Regions from separate parts of the Homo sapiens genome. Here all the other regions are linked to region 3. The links come from fine-mapping of genetic effects on gene expression. A gene starts in region 3. Each other region holds a variant in brackets. All regions are shown on one strand. Distances are between the middles of the regions.

Region 1 (5,152 bases), 36 kb after region 3:
TTGCTTTTTTTTTTTTTTTTTTGAGACAAGGTCTTGCTCTGTCACTCAGGCACTCAGGCTGGAGTGCTGTGGTGCAAACATAGCTCCCTGAAGCCTTGACCTCCCAAGCTCAAGTGATCCTCCCTTCTCAGCCTCCCAAGTAGCTGGGACCACAGGTGCATGCCACCACGCCCAGCCAATTTGTTAAAAAAAAAAAAAAAACCTTTTTGTAGAGACAGAGCCTCACCAAACATTGCCCACGCTGGTCTTGAACTCCTGGACCCAGGCAGTCCTCCCACCTCAGCCTCCCAGAGTGCTGGGATTACAGGCATGAGCCACTGCACCTGGCTGACAGTTTTGCTTTTTAAGTCATTATTACTGTTAGACAGGAGGCCAGGGAAGTCTCTCCTCAGTTTCTCATACAGTAACCTCACCCTGTAGAAAAACCTTCAGTGATTCTTTCCAAAGCAGGGCTCTAGAACAGGGTTTTTCATGTGGGGTTGGTCTGTCACCTCTTTGAAAGTATATATAAAGTTTCGTGTGTGCTTTTTTCTGAGGAGAAGGGGCTTTGGTATTCATTAGATTCCTGAAGGGATGTATCTATAAGATTAAGAATCACATGACCTATCTCTTCTTAGCTAAGGCAAGTCTCTCTTTTTTCCTTTTTATACTGAATGGCTTTCAGCTACCTTTAGTTAAATTCCTCAGACTGAGGTGTGGTAAATTGTTCAACAAGGACCAGGTTAATTGGAAGCCTCCCCTAAGCTCCCTGGCTGGGTGCAGGGCCCTCCTGCTGTGATCTTAAAGCATTCCCTGCATACTTGTGTCAGAGCGCTTGTTACATCATATTGAAAGGCTCTGTTTATGGGATTATCACTCATTATTAGACTTGAAGGGTTGGCCTGTGTTATATTAATTTTTGTATCCCCAGCACCCAGCATCATACCACGTATATGGTAGGTACTCAAAAATGTCATTGGCCTGAACTATTTTAACCATCATAAGTCAACAGATTCTTCTTTCCCTCCCAAGCAGCCAGTGTGTTCCAAGCTGTAACCCTGAGCCAGGTACTAAATTAGGCATTGAGAAAACAGGGGTAAGCTCCCAGTATGGAGCTTATAGGCTACATGCAGAGAGAACAGGATTTTTGCCACCCACTGGAACTGCCACATGTGAGCCATGTGCATTTACAGTGGTGCTGACCTTGCAAAAATTCCCCCTTCTATGACAGACATTAATTATGTGCACGTATTCAGCCATTTTCATCACTCAAAGCAAAAATGAAAAAAAAAAATGCTCTTTCTAGTCTTCCTCAAAACCATCCATTAAATTTCTCTTTAAAATCCTTTCTCTTTGAATACAGCTGTTAATGTTTTCCCTCTAAAAATAGAAAATTTAGACTGTAGTTACTGATAAAAGGAGTGTCAGCATTGAGAACGATGTTCTGCACATAGAAGTGGGGTGTTTTTTTTTTTGCTTTTATTTTTTAAAACTGAAAGGAAAACCTCATGATTAAAATAAAAATAAGGCAGAGCCATCATGCCTGGTTCACTAGTATGTTTTTTTTCTTTTCTAGCTTATAAATCTGTTTAATCACATGGATTTGGGTTTATGTGTGACCCTATTTTTCTGTGCTGCAAATGCGCCATCGGCTTCTAAAAGTATAGGCTTTTCCCAGTAGTTGACTTGGGCAGGATTTGCTCACAGAACCAGGCATATGGAGAGTCTTAAGTCCAGAGCACTATGCTGTCTCTGTTCTAAAGATCATTGCACTTAAGAAGTTCATGACTTTGGGGAGTATATTGAAAGCCATCCATGGATGTATATTTCAAAAGATGTATTTTGACACCCTCATCTGAAGACTGATCTAGTAGGTATGAGCTAAGGCTCCAGCATTGATAGTTTTAAGTAACCCCACTAATGTAGGAGAAGTCTTCATTTATGTGGTCATTGAAGTACACAAAGTTAGTAAGTTGCGTATGTACACAAATATCTGCACTGCTTAGAGGAA[A/G]TACGGCTTTCTGACTTCTTCGGTTGTGTCTCAGAGATATTTGAAATAATGCCATTTCCGCTGCATTCACTGTTCTAACTGCCCAAAACACGCTTTCCCTAAATATCAGCATAATCCTGTCTGTTTATTGTCTGTTTCCAACTCTGAAATGTAAGCTTCATCCGAGTAGGCATTTTGTCTCTTTTGTTCATTGATTCATTACAAGCTTCCAGAACAGTGCCTGGCATGTTGTAAGTAGTCAGTAAATATTTGTTGAATGATTACTATTAGTGTGGTTATTCAAATATGTTATTGGCTAAAAAGATTTCTTGAACTGCCCTGGAAACCTAACCTCTTCCATCTGTAGCATTTTCCATAATAGAATATTCCAACTGCTAAATAACAGATGTGCAAGTGAAAATGGGCAGCATTACCATACAGAGAAGTTGGTTAGTTCTTGATGGATTGCAACTTTATTTCAAAACAGGATGTGAAATGGTCTGACTTCGGGTTTCCTGGAAGAAATGGACAGGAAAGTACATTGTGGATTGGCTCCTTGGGAGCCCACACACCCTGTCATCTGGACTCCTATGGTTGTAACTTGGTATTCCAGGTACAAGGAAGGTAATGTGTGTGTGTGTGTGTGTGTGTGTGTGTGTGTGGAACGCACATGTGCATGCATGCAATAGGGGTGGCAGAGAGAATAGGGCAATACCCCAAGGTGTAGTCCCAGCCCCATCCTGTCAGCCTGCCTCATGATTAGGGCAGACCTCTTAACCTCTGGTTTTGGTTTCTCCTCTGTGAAATGAGGACAGTTAAAATGGTGGTTTACAGGTGCGTGCCTTGTCATGATCAGGATTGTCTTCAGAGAGTTTATTCTAGAACTCTGAGATTCCACTCCCAGGTCAGCTAGACAGCTCTCTGCTTGGTCTTTTTTTTTTTTTTTTTTTTGGTAAATTAGAGACATTTGAGACAGTCTTGCTCTGTTGCCCAGGCTGGAGTGCAATGGCATGATCATAGCTCCTGGACCTCAAGCCATCCTCCTGCCGCAGCCTCTCAAGTATCTAGGACTACAGGTGTGTGCCAGTATGCCCAGCTAATTTAAAAAACTTTTTATTTAGAGATGGAGTCTTTCTGTGTTGCCCAAGTATGGCCTCAAACCATACTCCTGCCTTGGCCTCTCAAAGTTCTGGTGTGAGCCACTATGCCCAGCCTATGCTTAGCTTTTCTTTTTTACATAAGAGTTTGTAGTTTTCAAACTTTTATTTAAAAATGGGAACACCCTTTCTTCAAATCTAAATAAATAAGAGCAGAGCAGTTTGTTGAAAGGAAGAGGCTTCACTGTTGCCCTCAAGCTCCTCTCCAAGGGATGCCAGCGATCCTGGTTTGAAAAATACTGGACGCTTTCAACTCTAAATTTTAGTTTGTGCCTACTTGACACAATACAGTGTATTGTTACCTTAGGTCAGTTTTTGTCTCCATCTATCTGTGGACTCTAGAAGATACGAGGGATAGGCAGTGCTTTTGATATACCTGGTTTCTGGAGTTCTATGAGAGTCTAAGTGTTTGTGCCACTTGGAGGATGTACTCAGATGTATGTGCAGCCTTATTTTCCCCTAATTAATGATGCCCCAGTCTTTTCTCCTGGTCATGTGGGACATTTACAGGGCAGCACAGAGAGTAAAACAGAAAAGGTCATGTGCAAGTTCTCAGACCTATTAGATGTGAAAAGGATTATGAGCAGATTCAGGAGAAATAGTCAGTATGTCTGTGGATACATTTCACATGTGAAGAACTCTGAGAATTACAGAATGGTAGAAGTTAGTCCACTCTCTGATGCATTCCGTCTTTATTAAAGGGCATAGAATGTGTCAGGTACATAGCTACACGCTGTGGATGCAAGAGTCAATCAGATGAGTGTGGTCTCTATCCTTGTGGAGTTAACAGGCTGAAACCTTAAACTTGGTAAGAGAGACAACATTTTAAGTAGCTGCTGTCCATGTGTTCTGAATTGGAAACAAGCCAAAGAAATTCAAGTTGGAAAAACATCAAAAAATACCTGAATTCTCTCTATGATATAAAGTTAATATCACTTTATTTTAACTTTGTAATAAGACATTTTCTGGCCTTATATAACTCTGGAATAATAAAATAGCTTTAGTAAATATCCATTGAGTATCCTTCTGTACAGGGACCATGTGTTACAGTAGGTACAGAGGTGAGGGAGTAAGACACCCTCTCTATGATGGGAGTTTACAGCCAGAGTGCAAGGCAAGCCGACAGACATCCATGATACAAGGCAGAATACCCATGCTCTAGAGGAAGGTTTCACAGAGCTGTGGGACTAAAAAGTAGAAGAGATCATGTTCCTGTTGTAAAGATCAGGGAAGATTTCACAGAGGAGCTGCCATTTGTGGTGGGCCTTGAAGGATGGATAAGTGCTCAAAAGACCCAGATGGGAAGGGCAGAGGGACCCTGAGAAAGCATGGGGTGTAGAGAGGACCCCTTGAGTTGTCCAGTATATGTTGTGCATTGGAGACAGAGGGAGTAGACCAGAAAGGCAGGTAGGTTGAGTCCCCAGGGTCTTGACTTCCAGGCAGACACTGTTATTCTCTGTTCTTTCAGCATCCAGAACCATGAGAAGTTTTTAAAGCAGGAGATCACATGATGATTGAATACCTTTTCTAATAGAAGGATTCATGCATTTTACATTTTTTAACCCAAACAAAGCAGATTGGATGGGATGGTTATCATTATGGCTGTTCCTTTGGGAAATATTGCTGTGGTGCAGGGGAAGGAACTGGGATCTGGAGAAGCCAGGAGATCTGTGACCTAGCTCTGAATCCACCACTACCCCAGTGAGTGACACTGGGCAAGCTCTGAGTCTTTCTGCCACTACTTTGGAAATGAAATTAGACTGATGATCTCTTCAGAGCCCTTCCAACTCTAACATTCGAAGCATATCAATACTGAAAACTGCTTTCAAACTAATCATACAGTGGAATGGAGCAGCTCTTAAAGCTTAAATTAAGTTAAAGCTTTAAGATTAGGCAAACAGCTTTTGAACCTCAATGGTTTTTAAGCTGATGGCCGTGTAAATTGATAGGCTGCCTTATAGCTCCGAAATGAATTTTTTTTTTTTTTTTTTTAGATACAAGGTTTTGCTTTGTCACCCAGGCTGGA
Region 2 (5,152 bases), 27 kb after region 3:
AATTTTTTTGTATTTTTTGTAGAGACAGGGTTTCACCGTATTGCCCAGGATGATCTCAAACTCCTGGGCTCAAGTAGTCCTCCCACCTCGGCCTCCCAAAGTGCTGGGATTATAGGCATGTTCCACTACGCCTGGCCAATGTTGGTATGTTAAGAGTTTATGTATATTGATTGTTTACTATGTGCCAGGCACTAAGTGCTTTACAAAAATTGTTAAAATTTAAATAGTTCTTGAATATGTACATTTTAATCTTTTAGATAAATGTGCCCTAGTTAAGTTCTTCTGCTTCTCAAAGTGAGGTGACAAGTTAAAGTGGATGAATTAGGATGATTCGTTGACATACACCCTGCCTCTATTACCTCTCTGCCATTCTGTGGCTTAGGAAAAAGAAGGTAAAGGAAAAAGATTATTGGATAATTCTAAGCAGTTACAGGCAGAAACGTAAGAAAAGATAAAAGCTGTTGAAAGAAGAATGTGAATATTCTTCTCTTCCTGCTACTGATTCAGCTAACTTTTAAAGGGTTCCAAGTAAATATATGAATGGATAAGAAGTACTAATAATAGTGCCTAACATTGACTGGGCACGGTGGCCCACACCTGTAATCCCAGCACTTTGAGGCCCAGGTGGGCAGATCACTTGAGGGCAGGAGTTCAAGATCAGCCTGGCCAACATGGCCAAACCCCATCTCTACTAAAAAATACAAAAATTAGCCAGACGTGGTGGCACATGCCTCTAGTCCTAGCTACTTGAGAGGCTGAGACGCGAGGATTGCTTGAACTCGGGAGGCAGAAGTTGCAGTGAGCCGAGATTGCACCACTGCACTCCAGCCTGTATGATGAGCAAGACCCTGTCTCAAAACAAAAACAAAAAATAAAAAAATAGTGGCGAACATTTATTGAAATCTGCTGTGTCAAGCACTGTGCTAACTGATCTACATCACATCCTGAAAGGATTTCATGTTTTGTAAAGGAAGTCATAATCAGATTTCTTAAATATTAACTTCCTCTGTTCATTTAAGTTGCAAAAATAAAATTAATTTCATCATTCTTTTAGAATAGTTTTTGTGTCAATCCACTGACTCCAATCTTGACTCATTGGAGTCATACCCATAATAACAAGCCACTGTGGACAGATAATACATCTTTTATTGAAGCTTTCCTGATCAACCCTCATCTCTAGTGGTCTTTGCCTTTTCCAGGTGTCAGCAGCATAAAATTTTGCATTTAACTGTATGGTGCCTCAAGTTTTTATTTACTAAATCCTCAAGTTTGGATTATTAAATCTACTCATAGGGTAGTCTTTAATCTTAAGGTTAAAACTGCTTTATACTTTTATGTTTAATCCTGAGTATTGTGAATTTTGTAAATGGCACTCATTATATAACAAGTACAAATTAATTTTTAAATTTTTTAATTAATTTTTTTTTGGAGATGGGGTTTTGCTCTGTTGCACAGACTGGTCTCAAATTCCTGGGCTCAAGCCATCTTCCTGCCTCAACCTCCAGAGAAACTAGGATTACAGGCATGCACCACCACACCTGGCTCAACACGAATTTTTAATTAGTCTTCAAAGTTAATTTTTTGGTTGAAATTATCTTTATTTTAAAAAAAAAACAATAATTAGGAAATGTGTTCATTATACATTTAAGGTTGCATTCTCTTACATTGCAGTTCCTCAGTTTGAAACTACATGTAATTACGTAGAAGCTACACTCGAAGAGTTTCTGACCTGGAACTGTGACCAGTCTAGTATTTCTGGACCATTTAGAGATTATGACCATTCCAAGTTCTGGGCTTATGCTGACTATAAATATTTTGTCAGTCTATTTGAAGACAAGACAGATCTTTTCCAGGTAAGTCAGAACCTTCCTTCTAATCTTGGTAGGAATTTGTTTTTGAGAAAAGAACACAAATTAGAATCTCCCTGGCACCTTCTCTGCCTTTTTCTCTCATAAGTAATCGCCATGAATCTTGGATATTTCACCCACTCAAACCAAAAGATTTGCTGAAGAGAAGTGTACCATTTGGCTCACACAGATGAGCAGGCTTCCTTGTTTTCCTACTCCCAAACTTCCTACACACCCTCCTTTGCTTTTAAACAGTGCTTGAGTCGGTTTGGAGTATGTTAGAAGCATAGATTGTGTATAAAACTTCATTGCCTCCTGACCTCCATATAAGTTCTTGTCCTGTCAGTGAGGCAGATGAAAGCATAAAGCTGATTCTGTGAAGGAGCATTCCTTGGGCTGTGACCAGGCTGCTGCTGCAATTTCTACCTGCTCTAGGGGTTTTGGACAGCTGTTTTCTCTGGCAGTTCATGGCCTGAGGCAGAGAACACTTGGCTCCCAGTATTTGGTAGTGGAAGCCCTGTAGAAGTGTGGGAGTGACTTGCAGAAGTAAAATTATGGAAGTTCTTTGCCGTATGTTGACATAACTGACAACAGAGTTTCCAGACTACCATATCCTCTTTTAAGTGTTTTCTACCTTAAACTGGCAGTTTATTTTGTGAGATAATTTTGCAAACTCCCTGCTCTTGTTGCCATGTGTCTTAGGTGTGGGGCAGGAATGGGAGCCATCCTGGAGGCTGTTTGGAGGACTCTGCCTTGCCCTGACTCAGGCCAAGGCTCCAGAGTCCTTCTTCCTGCCCCTTCTTTGTGGAGAGAAGTATTTCACCATCCCTGCAGGCTGTTCACC[C/A]CTTCTCCTCTCTGCCACCACCCACTCTCTGGACTTGGCTTTCATATAGGCTGATAGTTCTTTGGCTCCTCAGTAATTTTCCATTCAGTGTATATTTTTCTTTTTTATGTTGAGTCAAGATGTAAATGCTGATGTTAACATAGTTATTATAATAGATCCTCCCATCTCAGTCTCCCGAGTTGCTGGGAGTATAGGAATGTGCCACTGCGCCTGGCTTAATTTTGCTTTTTTATTTTATAAAAAAGGAAAAATGTGTCACCTTGCCCCATAGTTGTTTTTTTTGTTGTTGTTGTCATTGTTGTTTTGAGATGGAGTCTCACTCTGTCACCCAGGCTGGAATGCAGTGGCGCAATTACGACTCCCTGCAACCTCTGCCTCCTCCCAGGTTCAAGCAATTCTCCTGCCACAGCCATCACCCACCCCCTGACCCCAGTAGCTGGGATTACAGGTGACTGCCGCCATGCCCAGCTAATTTTTGTATTGTTTTGTAGAGACAGGGTTTTACCATGTTGGCCAGGGTGGTCTCAAATTCCCGACTTTAAGTGATCCACCAGCCTCGGCCGCCCAAAGTGCTGGGATTACAGGCGTGAGCCACTGTGCCCGTCCTGTCATAGTTGTTAGTTGAGAATGTATTTTCATTCTCATACCCATGAAAGAAATGCATAGGTTTTAAAAACATTCAGTAAATGACTCTGAATTCAAAGTCAATACCAAATCTACTATTTACTCATTTTTAAATGATAATTTTAAGGTAGATGTTTTTTCTTACAACCTTAATTGTGATCACTTTATGGTTCTTTAATTATGGAACTTACAGGTTTCATAGTTAACTTTAAAAGTGTTTTGTTATGTTTCTCATACCCACGCCCCACCATTCCGTAAATTAGACTAGTACTTTACTCCATATTTCAGGTAAAATATTGCTTAATAGTAACATTGATCATGTACTTACTTTTTGGGGGAATTTTTCTAATGTTTTACACTTATAATCCTCAAAGTAACTCTATGATTTAATAATTGTCCCCATTTTAAGAAAAATGAGACCCAAAGAGGTTAAGTAAACCTTTTCTAAGATTATACAACAAGGAAGGGGTAACCCAAATAGTCTGCCTTCAGAGCTTTAACTACTACAGAGCTTTAATTACTGCTGTGCCTACAGAGCGTGTGCATACATTCGGTCCTGTTGGGACTCTCTGTCCTGAGTGTAGGCTCACTCTGCCTTGGATGAGTGTTTGATCTGACCCCATTAGTAGTTCTGTCCCACCCCAGGCAAGGCAGTACTGTGCAGTATGTGACCTGTCCATTAAGTGCGGATATAAAGGGCAGCCTTTTGGCAATGTGCTGGAATTCTGACTGAGCCCTTATAAAATCTGATATTTTGAGTTGAATGAGTTTTCTGTCAGCTCATATTATGGCAATTAATTCTGCTATGAATAACCAAGTCCATTAAGATTATATCATCTTTTGTCTCAAAATTTTCTGGGCACCAAGTCTTCTTACATCACAGGTACCTGTGTTGGTTTAATTCATTCAGCCACCAAGTCTTATTACTTGCTGTTTCAAGCTTTCTTATATCTGTCATAAAATGGTGGGTAGTTAAACATTAAAATGGGTACATTTTAAAAATGTTTATTGATTTATTTAAAATGACACAACCCACTATACGTTAACATAATAATATTTTTGAGAAAATAACTATATTCAAAAAATGTTTAATGTCATTAGAGGGATAGATTGTTGTACATTTTGGCATGTCTTCTTGATGTCTGGCTGTAAGAAGACAGCTGGATTCTCTGCTTCTCCATTCAAGCTGTTGCAATTTGTTGGTTTGTTTAAAGTATATGAAGAAAATTTTGCCTCACACACATATGAAACTGAAAAAGGGAGGAGTATTTATTAATAACAGCCTTTTCAGATAATTGTGGATTTTTTTATACCACACACACCAAACTTGATGAGGGGTAGTTTCTTAAAGGTTCATTAGTTGCAGTATAAAAATCTGAACCTATAATGAATGAACTCTCTACTCTTATAAAATCCATTGGTCTGTCTTGCACAGAATGGATCTTATGTAATGTTATTCATGGACCATTTGGAAAATATTGACTTACTGAATTAGTAGATCTTCCAAATGTTGACACATTTTCAGTATACTTGATACATTTCATTATTCAAAAAGTCACATTTGTTAATACCACTGTTCTTATCAGAAAAATAGTGTTAGGAAGCTTTCAGGCTCATGTATTTCTTTTTTTTTTTCTTTTTCTCTTTTTTTTTTTTTTGAGACAGAGTCTGACTCTGTCACCCAGGCTGGAGTGCAGTCACATGATCTCAGCTCACTGCAACCTCTGCCTCCTAGGTTCAAGCAATTCTCCTGCCTCAGCCTCCTGAGTAGCTGGGATTACAGGCGTGCACCACCACACCTGGCTAAATTTTGGATTTTTAGTAGAAACGGGGTTTC
Region 3 (5,152 bases):
TGATTTTTATACCCTTTATCATTCTTGTCGCAGAACCTTTAAAGTTCTGCAGTTTGTCAAATGGCCTTCTCAGAATCAAGCTCAGAACTAAACACTAATGTAGAGCCTATCAAACTATTTTGCTTCTTGTTTTGGACACTATGTTTCTATGCCTAAACTGTCCTTTCTTTTTTAGCAGCTACATTATATTGTTGATCATTAAGGAATTCACAATCAACTATTCCTTAGTCTTTTTCACATGGATTCCAATGAAGGAATTCCAGTGAAGGAGGAGAGAAGGAAGTATAACTACTAACATCACCCTGCTATTCTATTCTCTTAATAACCAACTAATTTTGAGTGCTAACTACATGCCAGACAATTGCAATTCTATACCTACCTACACTTGACTTTTGCTGAGGTCTGAATGTGTTCCCCTCAAATTCATATTTTGTTTATGTATTAATTTTTCTGAGACGAGTCTTGCCCTGTTGACCAGGGCAGAGTGCAGTGGTGCCATCACAGCTCACTCCAGCTTCGACCTCCTGAGCTCAAGCAATCCTCCCACCCCAGCCTCCCAACGTGCTGGGATTACTTGAGCCACTGCGCCAGGCCTCAAATTCACATTTTGAAATCTTAACCCTCAAAATGATGGAATAAGAAGGTGCAGCCTTTGGAAGGTGATTAGGTTATGAGGGTGGAACCCATGTGAATAGGATTACTGCCCGTATAAAACAGACCTCAGAGGGATTCCCTAACCCCTTCTTCCATCTTATGTTATAGTGAAGAGACCACTGTGTAGGAAGCAGGCCCTCACCCGACACCGATTCTGCCTGAGCCTTCATCTTGGACTTCCCAGCCTCCAGAACTGTGAGAAATAAATTTCTGTGTTTATGAACTACCCAGTTTATGGTATTTTGTTATAGCAGCTCCAGTGGACTAAGACAACCTTCCAAATCTGACTAAAGAACTCATTGCAACAAAACTTATAAAAGGTTGAACAGAAACTGTACAAAGTAGCTCCCAGGCATTATTCAATTAATAAATATAAAATCTTGCACAACAGCCTCTTGAGGGTAGACTGTCACTACTAATCATTTATCCATACTTATGTGGTAAGTATGCCTTGATTCTCAGCCCTATGGCTTTTTCTTCTCAGAGAATCACACTGGCAAGTGGTAAAGTGAGATGTCCAGGGTACCATTCTAAGCAAGCATCTTCACTCATCTGCAAGCTTTAATTGAAAGTCACAAATCTCAACTGAGAAAGCCATCTAGTCACATACACACATTTTAAAGCTGCCGAGCACCACCTTCCAGAAACCAAAGTGTCAGATCTGAGTTTCCCAATAGCTCTTCCTGGGCTGGAGTCATCTATTACACAAAACGAACTCATTATTTCCTTACATATGGGCACCGTCAATCTATTTTCCGACCTTTCATCCTCAACATCCCCATATCCCTTTGAAGTCAAAGCATCAGTCATTTTTGTCAGGTGTAAAACACATACACCGCACGTGCACGGGGATGCTCTGATGTTCACAATGTGTAAAAACTTGAACGTTTAGAGATCGCTTAAATCCCTGGTGTTGCATAAAGGGCCTTGATAAAAAACATAAATATTTGCAAGGTTGCCTTTCCATATTTGTCGCTTTGGGGACGGAGGGTTCCTAAGTCAGAAATGGAATGCTAGCAACACTCTATCACCTCACACAACCCCTATGCCGGGGCCAAGGGAGGCGGCTGGCAGGCCTGGAGCGCGGGCAGGCGCCTGCTCCCGGAGGAGAGACAGCGCGGGCTGGCGCTCCGCGACCCCTCACCTCTCTTGTCCAGGAGCCACATGAACGCGAAGCAGGGCAGGAAGCCGATGGGCCCCCACAGCACGAGCAGCGCGATGTCCCAGCTGGAGAAGCCGTAGGCCTGGCGCGCCGAGTTCTGGATGGGACCCCAGGTGTTCCAGACCAGGCCCTGAACGAACGCCAGCAGCGAGAAGAGCAGCAGCACCAGCCAGCGGCGCCCGTATACCCGCCCGGGACCCGGGACCGCCGCGGGCAGCGCCGCCGCCGCCGCCTCCCGGCTTCTCCAGGAGGCCCCCAGCCCAGGCCCGAGCCCGGGCCCCAGCAGCGGCTGCCTCTCCTCTTCGCTGCTCCAGCGAGAGCCCATGGCGACGCGTCGCCCGCGAAGCCACTGCCGGGCGCAGTCCGGGTCACCGCCGACTAGCCCAGCGCAGAATAGTCCTGAGCAGCAGGAGGCGGAGGCTGCTGTGGTCGCCCTCGGCCTCCGGACCGCGCCTGGTGCGCCTGCGCGGCCCGAGCCGGGCCGGCGGGGAGGCGGGGAGGCGGGGCAGGCGGCAAGGAGGCTGGGGTCCGCCCTCCCCTCCGCGGGTGGCGAGGAAACACCGGCGAGAGGAAAGGAGCCAGGTCCCAGACGGAGGGCAGGTAGCGCTGAAAAGGCAGGGACCAGCGCGGCTGAGTCGGGGAGAGGGAAACTCCCAGAGAGGCTGTATTCGAGGAGGTTGGGCAAGGAACCCTGGGGTGTTTGGAGGAAGTGTCCAAGTTAAATCTTGTGCCTAATAAACAACTCAGTGACCTGTTAAGTGACGTCAGTTAACCTGATGCTTGCTTCTATTTTGGGCTTATTCTCATTTTTGTTGAGTTAGTAACTTCAGAAATTATAGGCGAAGGATAAAGTTTAAGCGTAGTTGGTCCCAGGGGATTATCTCATAAAAATCATTTCTTACGTGCAATAAGTACTACCTATTTTTGTTACTTTTTTGTCTTACATATCCAAAGAGGAGATTCCAAACTAGCCAATTTCATTCATATATATGTAAACTTTACCCATTTCGCCTGCCAATAGGCGAGCAATAAAGGTATGTCCAGTAAAGTTGGAAGATTTTTGCCCCAAAGATCCATCTCCAGTGATTATGATTTGACCACAGGGTAAACGAGAAGAAAGGTGGTTGTTGATCTCTTCACACAGCTGTTTGTTTATTTTGGTATACAAATTCAGAAGCCTGACAGCTGTGGATTAGTGTCCTTGAAAACCTAAAGTCAAGCAATTTGGCTTGTCTGGATCGGGAAATGAGTCACAGGGAACGCAATCACAGGATTCTTTGCCCGAGGTTCGTATTTCCCGGCAGCCACTAAAATCAGAAGGAGTCAGGTTACCACCAGAAGGGCAAGAGAGGTGTAAGAGAAGCGTGAGCTAGCCTCGCATTCCAGGCTGCCAAGAGCGGCTCGCGAAAGCTCACGGCAGAGACCCATCCCACCGCCGGAGCCCCACTAAGCGGCAAACCTTCCCCTAAAACTCCAATCCTTTAGGGTGGAGAAAAGCCGAGGTGGAAAGGAAGGATCTGACTAGAAAAGGAGAAACAGAAACGAAGCTAAGACTACAATAAAGAACGCTAAGGTCCGGGTTAGGTAAAAAGCGCCACAACTCAGACCACGTGTTTGTATTTCCACACCCGGGGTATCAAAACAAAGCTGCGTGGTCCCGCCCAGCATCCGTCACGTGACCTCCACGTGAGAGCCGGCGTTTCCGTAGGAGCCGGGCGGGAGTCGCCGGGGCTCCTTCCTGTGGTGCAGCTTCGGGTCTCGGAGTTTGGCCCCTACTCTGACCCCACCCCAGCTCCGCTCCGCCTTGGGTTCCGGCAGAACCCGCCTTGCGGTAGCCATGGCAGCAGGCTCCGAGGCGACCACTCCTGTGATCGTTGCGGCTGGGGCTGGAGGGGAGGAAGGTAGGTGCCAGGCTGAGGTCCGACCCTGAGTACAAACCCAATGCCAGTTGACTCTCGTGGCACCCCTCGTGGGGCCGTTTGCCTTAGCCCCAACCCAGGTCTCTCTGGCCTTGCATTAGACTATGAAGAAAAATCTATATTTTCTAGTGAGCGTGGCATTTCTCGAATTGTGGCATCCAGATTTTTGATCGTCGTAGGGTAGCCTACGAGTGCTGTTTCACGCATGGGGTGTTATTTTTGTTTTGTTTTGTTTTATATTTGCCCATCATTAGCTAAATAGAGGTGTTTTGAACGTTTAGAGGGGATTAAAATTAAATTTGTGAAATTGAAGGCAACCTTTGAGATTAATGGAAGTTATCTGAGACTTTTGTGAACAGGGATTATGCGCTTTTATTCTATTTCAGTGAACCCTGGTTTAGCAAGTGGGGATGAGGTTTGGAGGCCCATGAGCCTGAGATCCCTGTTATTATTTATTGAATGATTGCACCGTGCAGGGCTGTGTTCTGAATACTGTCGCAGGATCCAGAGACTTTTGAATATTTATAACAATACCTTTTCCAAAGGAGCCTAGAAAGGAAAAAGAATGACTTACTATGTGGTCACCTGAACTATTCTACCAGTAGTACACTCTGTGAGGGTTGTTAGGAGGAGGGATCTCAGTGGGGAGAACATAAATGCTTCAAGGAGCGAATAGTTTGAGGTCGGCCTTTCTTTTTCTTTTCTCTCTTTTTTTTTTTTTCTTTTTTTGAGACGGAGTCTCGCTCTGTCACCAGGCTGGAGTGCAGTGGCGCGATTTTGGCTCACTGCAACCTCCACCTCCCAGGTTCAAGCAATTCTTCTGCCTCAGCGTCCCAAGCAGCTGGGACTACAAGCGTGCCACCACGCCCAGCTAATTTTTGTATTTTTAGTAGAGACGGGGTTTCACCATGTTGGCCAGGATGGTCTCGCTCTCTTGACCTTGTGATCCGCTGAGGTGGGCCTTTCTGATTGGATGAGATGGTGACAAACTCAGGGAGTGGTGCTGGGGTTCAGGAAGTCAGGGAGCAGAAAAGGATGGATGTATTTAGGGGTCAAACAGTTTGCTGAAGGGGGAGATGCCCATTCCAAGCAGAAGAAACAAATTATAGCCTCCTACTATCTGACCACTTTCTACCAGGGAGACAATTCTTGACCTTCATCTATACCTCCATTGCATTGATCTTTCCATTTTCTATCCACTGCACCCCCTTATCCAGAATGTATGTCGTTCCTTTGAAAAATTCTCTTGTCCCTTCCTGCACTTTTTTCTGACAAAACTCTTACTCTGGATGAAGTCAACCTTTTGCCCTCTTTGTACCTGCACCCGTGGGCCTGAACTTTGCTGGAAAAAGTCCTGCACAAACTGATGACCGTATAAAGTGAAAATGGCCAAACTCTTGAATATTCAGTCAGTATG
Region 4 (5,152 bases), 110 kb before region 3:
GCCTCTGAGACTTGCAGCATTCCAAAAGGGGATCTTCCAGAAGAGGAGAGACATCCCGCCATTTCTACCAAACGATGTGTCAGTCACCTGGGTCCAGCATTTCAGGAGCTCCCTAGGAAGGAGTCTTTTAACTGGAGGTCCACCAGGCCTGTGCTCACTGGGGCCCCAGGCTCCTCCCAGGGCCCAGCTGTTCTGAGCCAGCCTGGCCTGCCACTCAGACCACTCCATGGCCCCCAGCTGCACTGCTAGGTCACCCTGACGACTCACTGAGAACCCTGCAGGCCAGCCCCAAACACGCTGCTCTGGAAAAGCCTCTCTCCTCATCCTGAGCTGCCAACAGGGCACTCACTTAGTCCTTGGGGGCTGCACCTCTAATTCTGTAGCTGTGCTGACTGGGGGAGGCTCAGGCTTTAGAGTCTGAAATGTGAACTCTGGAGTTTGTGGGAAAATTTATCCCTACCCATAAGGTCCTTCCACCAATCACCCTCCAATCACCCTAAAAGGGAGATGTTTCCCTAGGTTTGCACCCCAGTTTCCAGGGCTGGTAGGATACAGGACCCCCACCGTACTTGGACATTCCTAATCAGCTCTGCCCAGCACTGAGCACTCTCAAAAACAGAGGGTCCACTTCCCCCACCACCCCTGATAAATCTCCCTTCCGAGATTCCTAGGGGTGTAGGCTCCAAAGAGCTCACAGTACAAAAGGATATCCAATAAAAAGTGAATCTCCCATTCTTGATTCCTAGGCCCCAAGATCTCATTCCATGAGGCACCTAGAGGTAGATCAGGGACACAGACACATATATGTATGTTTATCATGTGTGTACATAAAATGCACCAAAAGTCAGCTTTGGCCTCGATATTCAGTAGAAATCTTTGAATTGGCCTTCAACCTCAGCTTTTGGAAGTTTCAGTAGCTGAATGCCTACCTCAGTATTATTTATAATATCCCTGAGAGTTTGTGCTTAATCTACAGTCATCGTTAACAGGTTATCACCATATCTTTTTTTTTTTTTTGAGACTGGGTTTTGCTCTGTTGCCCAGGCTGGAGTGCAGTGGTGTGATCATGACTCATTGCAGCCTCAGCCTCCAGGGCTCAGGCAATCTTCCTACCTCAGCCACCCAAGTAGCTGAGACTACAGGCGCATGCCACCATGCCTGGCTAATTTTTAAAAATTTTTGTAGAGATGGAGTCCCACTATGTTGCCCAGGCTGGTGTCAAACTCTTGGGTTCACACCATCTTCCCACTTTGGCTCCCAGAGTGCTAGGATTACAGGTGTGAGCCACTGCACCCGGTCTATCATTATATCTAATCAGCATATCAACATTAGTAATATGCATGAGGCATACCATTTAGATTTATTAATAGATGATACTCACTATAAATATCAAATGAGTCTTGAAGTGAAAGTCTCTTTTATGCTTCATATGTTAAAATTCTCAGTCATTTGAACTACATATATTTATTATTATAAGATTAAAAAGCCATAATAATTAATGTTTCACATAATGATGGTGAAAGCTGCTAATTTTATGTTCAAAAACAAGCACCTTTAAATAGCAAATAAATTGAGAAAAAGACTGAGAATTAAAAAGAATATTGAGAGAGAATGTTAGTGAGATAACTTTAGGAAGAACATTATCATCTCTGTAAGCCAATGAATGTTAAACAATTTTCAATAATACCAGTCAGAATAATAGATATTTGATTAAGTCATAACTCTAGTATCTGTCTAGTTTGGTGCATATCTCACATGCATTATGGTAAATAAAATCACCTTTAACAATTATGTTTGATTTTTGATATTTAATTCCATTTAGGTTATGAGTCTTTCAGGAATAAATTCTATTTGGGAATTCACATCTTATGAAAATGAATTTTTAAAAAAAGAATGTTAGCTTTTCTATCTCAACATTCCATAAGCAGAAAAAAATTGCAAAACCATGTACAATATCCATGACAAATCACCTTTGATTCAGACATAACAAGGGATATAAAGAGAATGAAGAAAAGAAAAAAAGTACAGGAAAATGTAATATCCGAAAAATACCTGGCTTCTCTCCCATTCTCAGTGGAAAGTGACCGTCTATTTCTTATGACAAAACTGCAGTGAAGGCCAGGTGCTGTGGCTCATGCTTGTAATCCCAGCACTTTGGGAGGCTGAGGCAGGTGTATCACCTGAGATCAGGAGTTCGAGACTAGCCCAGCCAACATGGTGAAACCCCATCTCTACTAAAAATACAAAATATCAGCTGGGCATGGTGGTGGGTGCCTGTAATCCCAGCTACTTGGGTGGCTGAGGCAGGAGAATTGCTTGAACCTGGGAGGTGGAGGTTGCAGTGAGTTGAGATCTCGCCATTGCACTCCAGCCTGGGTGACAAGAGCAAAGCTCTGTCTCAAAAACAACAACAACAAGAACTGCAGTGACGTGATCACAGAGCCATTTTGCAGCTGATCATGCTGAGTGATTACTGTTCTTGCACCATAAGGTCAAACTTAGAATTTGACCATTAGCAAAACTATAATAATAATTACATTCTTTGGGATGAAATTTCAGGTTAATTCTTGCATCCCAGGAGTTTCATTCTGAGATGGTAATATTTGGTTTTGACCCCAACTTTAACCCAATATTGATTTTAGCATTTGCCCAAGTGTGTGTTCTGGGCAACATATGGGCTCACCTGTACACACTATTCTGCACCAGCTTTCCCACTTAACAATCTGTCACCTAGAGTGTTCCATGTCTGTCTTTTCCCCAACAATTGCCACCAGCATTTATTTAACCAAACCCCTAATGATGAACTTTTAGGATATTTTCAATCTTTTGTTACAATGTTGCAAATACTTTTTTTTCTTTCTTTTTTTTTTTTTTTATAAGACAAGGTCTCATTCTGTCACCCAGGCTGGAGTGCAGTGGTGCAATCATGGCTCACTGCAACCTCTGCCTCTGCCTTCCAGGCTCAAGCGATCCTCCCACCTCAGCCTCCTGAGTAGCTGGGACTACAGGTGCATGTCATCACGCCCAGCTAGTTTTTTGTATTTTTTGTGGAGATGAAGTTTCACTATGTTGCCCAGGTTGGTC[T/G]CAAACTCCTGGATTCAAGTGATCCACCCTCCTCGGCCTCCCAGAGTGCTGGGATTACAGGCGAATACAGGTGAATACTATCCTTATATATATATAGCTATAATGGCAGAATGAATTCTGAAAAAATAGAATTACTCAAAGAGTATACATGTTTTTAAATTTTGATAGATTTGCCCAACTTACTGTAACATTACCTTATATCTTTTCTTTTTATGTCTTTCTCTCATAGAAGTGATTCTCCACTTTTAGTGCAGAGTTCATTCTAGGGGAGCAAAAAAGTTGGCCAAAGTGACTTGACAGTCCCTGCATCTCCAGGCCCTTCTCATGGGAGAAGAGTCCCTTCTTCCTCCCATGGCCCTGGTTCCCCAGGAACCTGGTCAGATGTTCCTTTAGAGCCACACTACACCTGGTTTTGTTTTGTTGTTTGGGTTTTTTGTTGTTGTTTTGTTTTTTCAGACAGAGTCTCACTCTGTCCCACAGGCTGGAGTGCAGTGGTGCAATCTTGGCTCACTGCAACCACCGCCTCCCTGGTTCAAGGAATTCTCCTGGCTCAGCCTCCCAAGTAGCTGGGATCACCAAAGCCCGCCACGACACCCAGCTAACTTCTTGTGTTTTTAGTAGAGATGGGGTTTCACCACGTTGGCCAGGCTGGTCTCAAACTCCTGACCTCAGGTGATCCACCTGCCTCAGCCTCCCAGAGTGCTGGGATTACAAGCATGAGCCACCGTGCTCGGCTTACAACTTTTTTTTTGTTTGTTTTTTTGCCATCAAATCTTGCCTCTTTTGATGTCTTATGTTTCCTGGGTTCCTTTTCTTTAAAATACCAATTGGCTACGCAGATTCCAGCCTAAGTGTGACTGGTTGACTGTGCATAAAGGTTTTCAGGGTCTGACCTCAAAGAAGTCAGTGATGTTGGGGCTTTCAGGATCTATACCTGGGCATTTTGGGCAGAGGGAATCCCAAAGCCCTCGACACTGAAGCTGTCTGGGATCCTACGGCCCTCCCTTCTTCCACCCCTTTCCTTATCTCAGGAGTAGGGACAAGGCCCAGGGTTCCTGGAATTCCTCCCTGGTTCCCCCAACCCTCCGTTACCAGCACTTGTGATCCGGGCAAGGAGTGGGGCCCTTCTGGCTGTTTAGGGCATCTTTTTAGACTTACAGAGTTCCTGTGTTCTCTTCATCTTCATTTTAATGTCCATATGATCCCTAAATGGTGATAGAAAAGCTGTTACTGTCACTTGATGTGTGGGAGGGGCTTGAGACAAGTGGGCATGGGAAGACCAGACTTCCATCTCCACCCTAGAAAATGACAGGCAAATGGACATCTCAGTCACGGTTTTGTCATGTCTATTACTCCCAGGTTTCTGAAACAGCTCCTCCCACCCATCCTCCTCCCAACAGACAAGCAGTGTTGAGCTGGTCTTTGCACAGGGATGGCTACAGATTGGCTGCCTGCCACGGTGTGCAGTCTTGAAGGACCCTATCCAAAAGCCCAGAGGGAAATCAGCTAAGCCAGTCAGAGTGGCTGTCTGTGGGATCTGGACTGAAGAATGAGGATAAGATAGGCTAGTAGCAATAGAAGAATGTAGCAGAAACACCGAGACTGCGAGGGAGAAAGACTGGACTGGCTGAGATTGAGAGACAGGGAGGGAGAGAGAGAAAGGGTAGCTGGCCCCCTCTTGGCTCCAACCCATATCCAGTCGAATCACTTCTTATGATGGCTGAAGTGACTCTATGATTCTTGTAACTGTAGGAGCTCTCTATCTCATGGACATCCACGGGTGTGGCTCAGAACTCACTCTCCTGGACCAACTTCTCCCTCTACCCAAATACCCTACAAAGGAGATTCTTTGCCCAAAAGATGTTACCATTGGCTTGGCCTATGATCTTTACTTTTAAATTCTCTTTCAGAGAAAAGAGGAGTTTGACACATTTGTGTTTGCTTTCCTGGGCCACATCCAGAAATAAACGGTCTATGTGCTGAGGTAAATCCAGTTCCCGGACATCTTATCTCCCCACTCAGAGGAGTGAATCCAGCTCTCAGCCAGCACCACACATGTTCCTGCTTG

Alleles and levels. Alleles are on the strand shown, and positions count from the first base shown. SD is a standard deviation of normalised expression in the study named. Not every link is listed here.
In carriers of allele T in region 4, the expression in prefrontal cortex of the gene that starts at base 2,265 in region 3 tends to be higher than with G alone (small effect, 0.26 SD a copy in ROSMAP).

Evidence for each region. PIP is the estimated chance that this variant, and not a neighbour inherited with it, causes the effect.
Region 1: its variant is the best candidate, but not a certain one, in a credible set for the expression of SLC49A4 in whole blood (TOPMed, PIP 0.58).
Region 2: its variant is the best candidate, but not a certain one, in a credible set for the expression of SLC49A4 in blood mononuclear cells (TOPMed, PIP 0.65).
Region 4: its variant is the best candidate, but not a certain one, in a credible set for the expression of SLC49A4 in prefrontal cortex (ROSMAP, PIP 0.52).

The regions. Positions count from the first base shown.
Region 1 is chr3:122,756,665-122,761,816 of GRCh38, reverse strand. It overlaps HSPBAP1 (HSPB1 associated protein 1), which reads left to right. Exons shown (of 8, transcript NM_024610.6): 4 at 2,457-2,593. Among named protein-coding and RNA genes, the nearest start is that of HSPBAP1, 35 kb to the left of the region's middle. The variant A/G (reference allele first, on the strand shown) is at 1,991.
Region 2 is chr3:122,765,402-122,770,553 of GRCh38, reverse strand. HSPBAP1 (HSPB1 associated protein 1) reads left to right here. Exons shown (of 8, transcript NM_024610.6): 3 at 1,672-1,853. Among named protein-coding and RNA genes, the nearest start is that of HSPBAP1, 26 kb to the left of the region's middle. The variant C/A (reference allele first, on the strand shown) is at 2,692.
Region 3 is chr3:122,792,182-122,797,333 of GRCh38, reverse strand. It overlaps SLC49A4 (solute carrier family 49 member 4), which reads right to left and starts at 2,265. Exons shown (of 9, transcript NM_032839.3): 1 at 1,799-2,265. The coding sequence starts at 2,141. HSPBAP1 (HSPB1 associated protein 1) reads left to right here and starts at 3,503. Exons shown (of 8, transcript NM_024610.6): 1 at 3,503-3,717. The coding sequence starts at 3,654. RefSeq lists a silencer at 1,939-2,428.
Region 4 is chr3:122,898,449-122,903,600 of GRCh38, reverse strand. No RefSeq gene overlaps it. Among named protein-coding and RNA genes, the nearest start is that of LINC02035, 15 kb to the right of the region's middle. The variant T/G (reference allele first, on the strand shown) is at 3,085.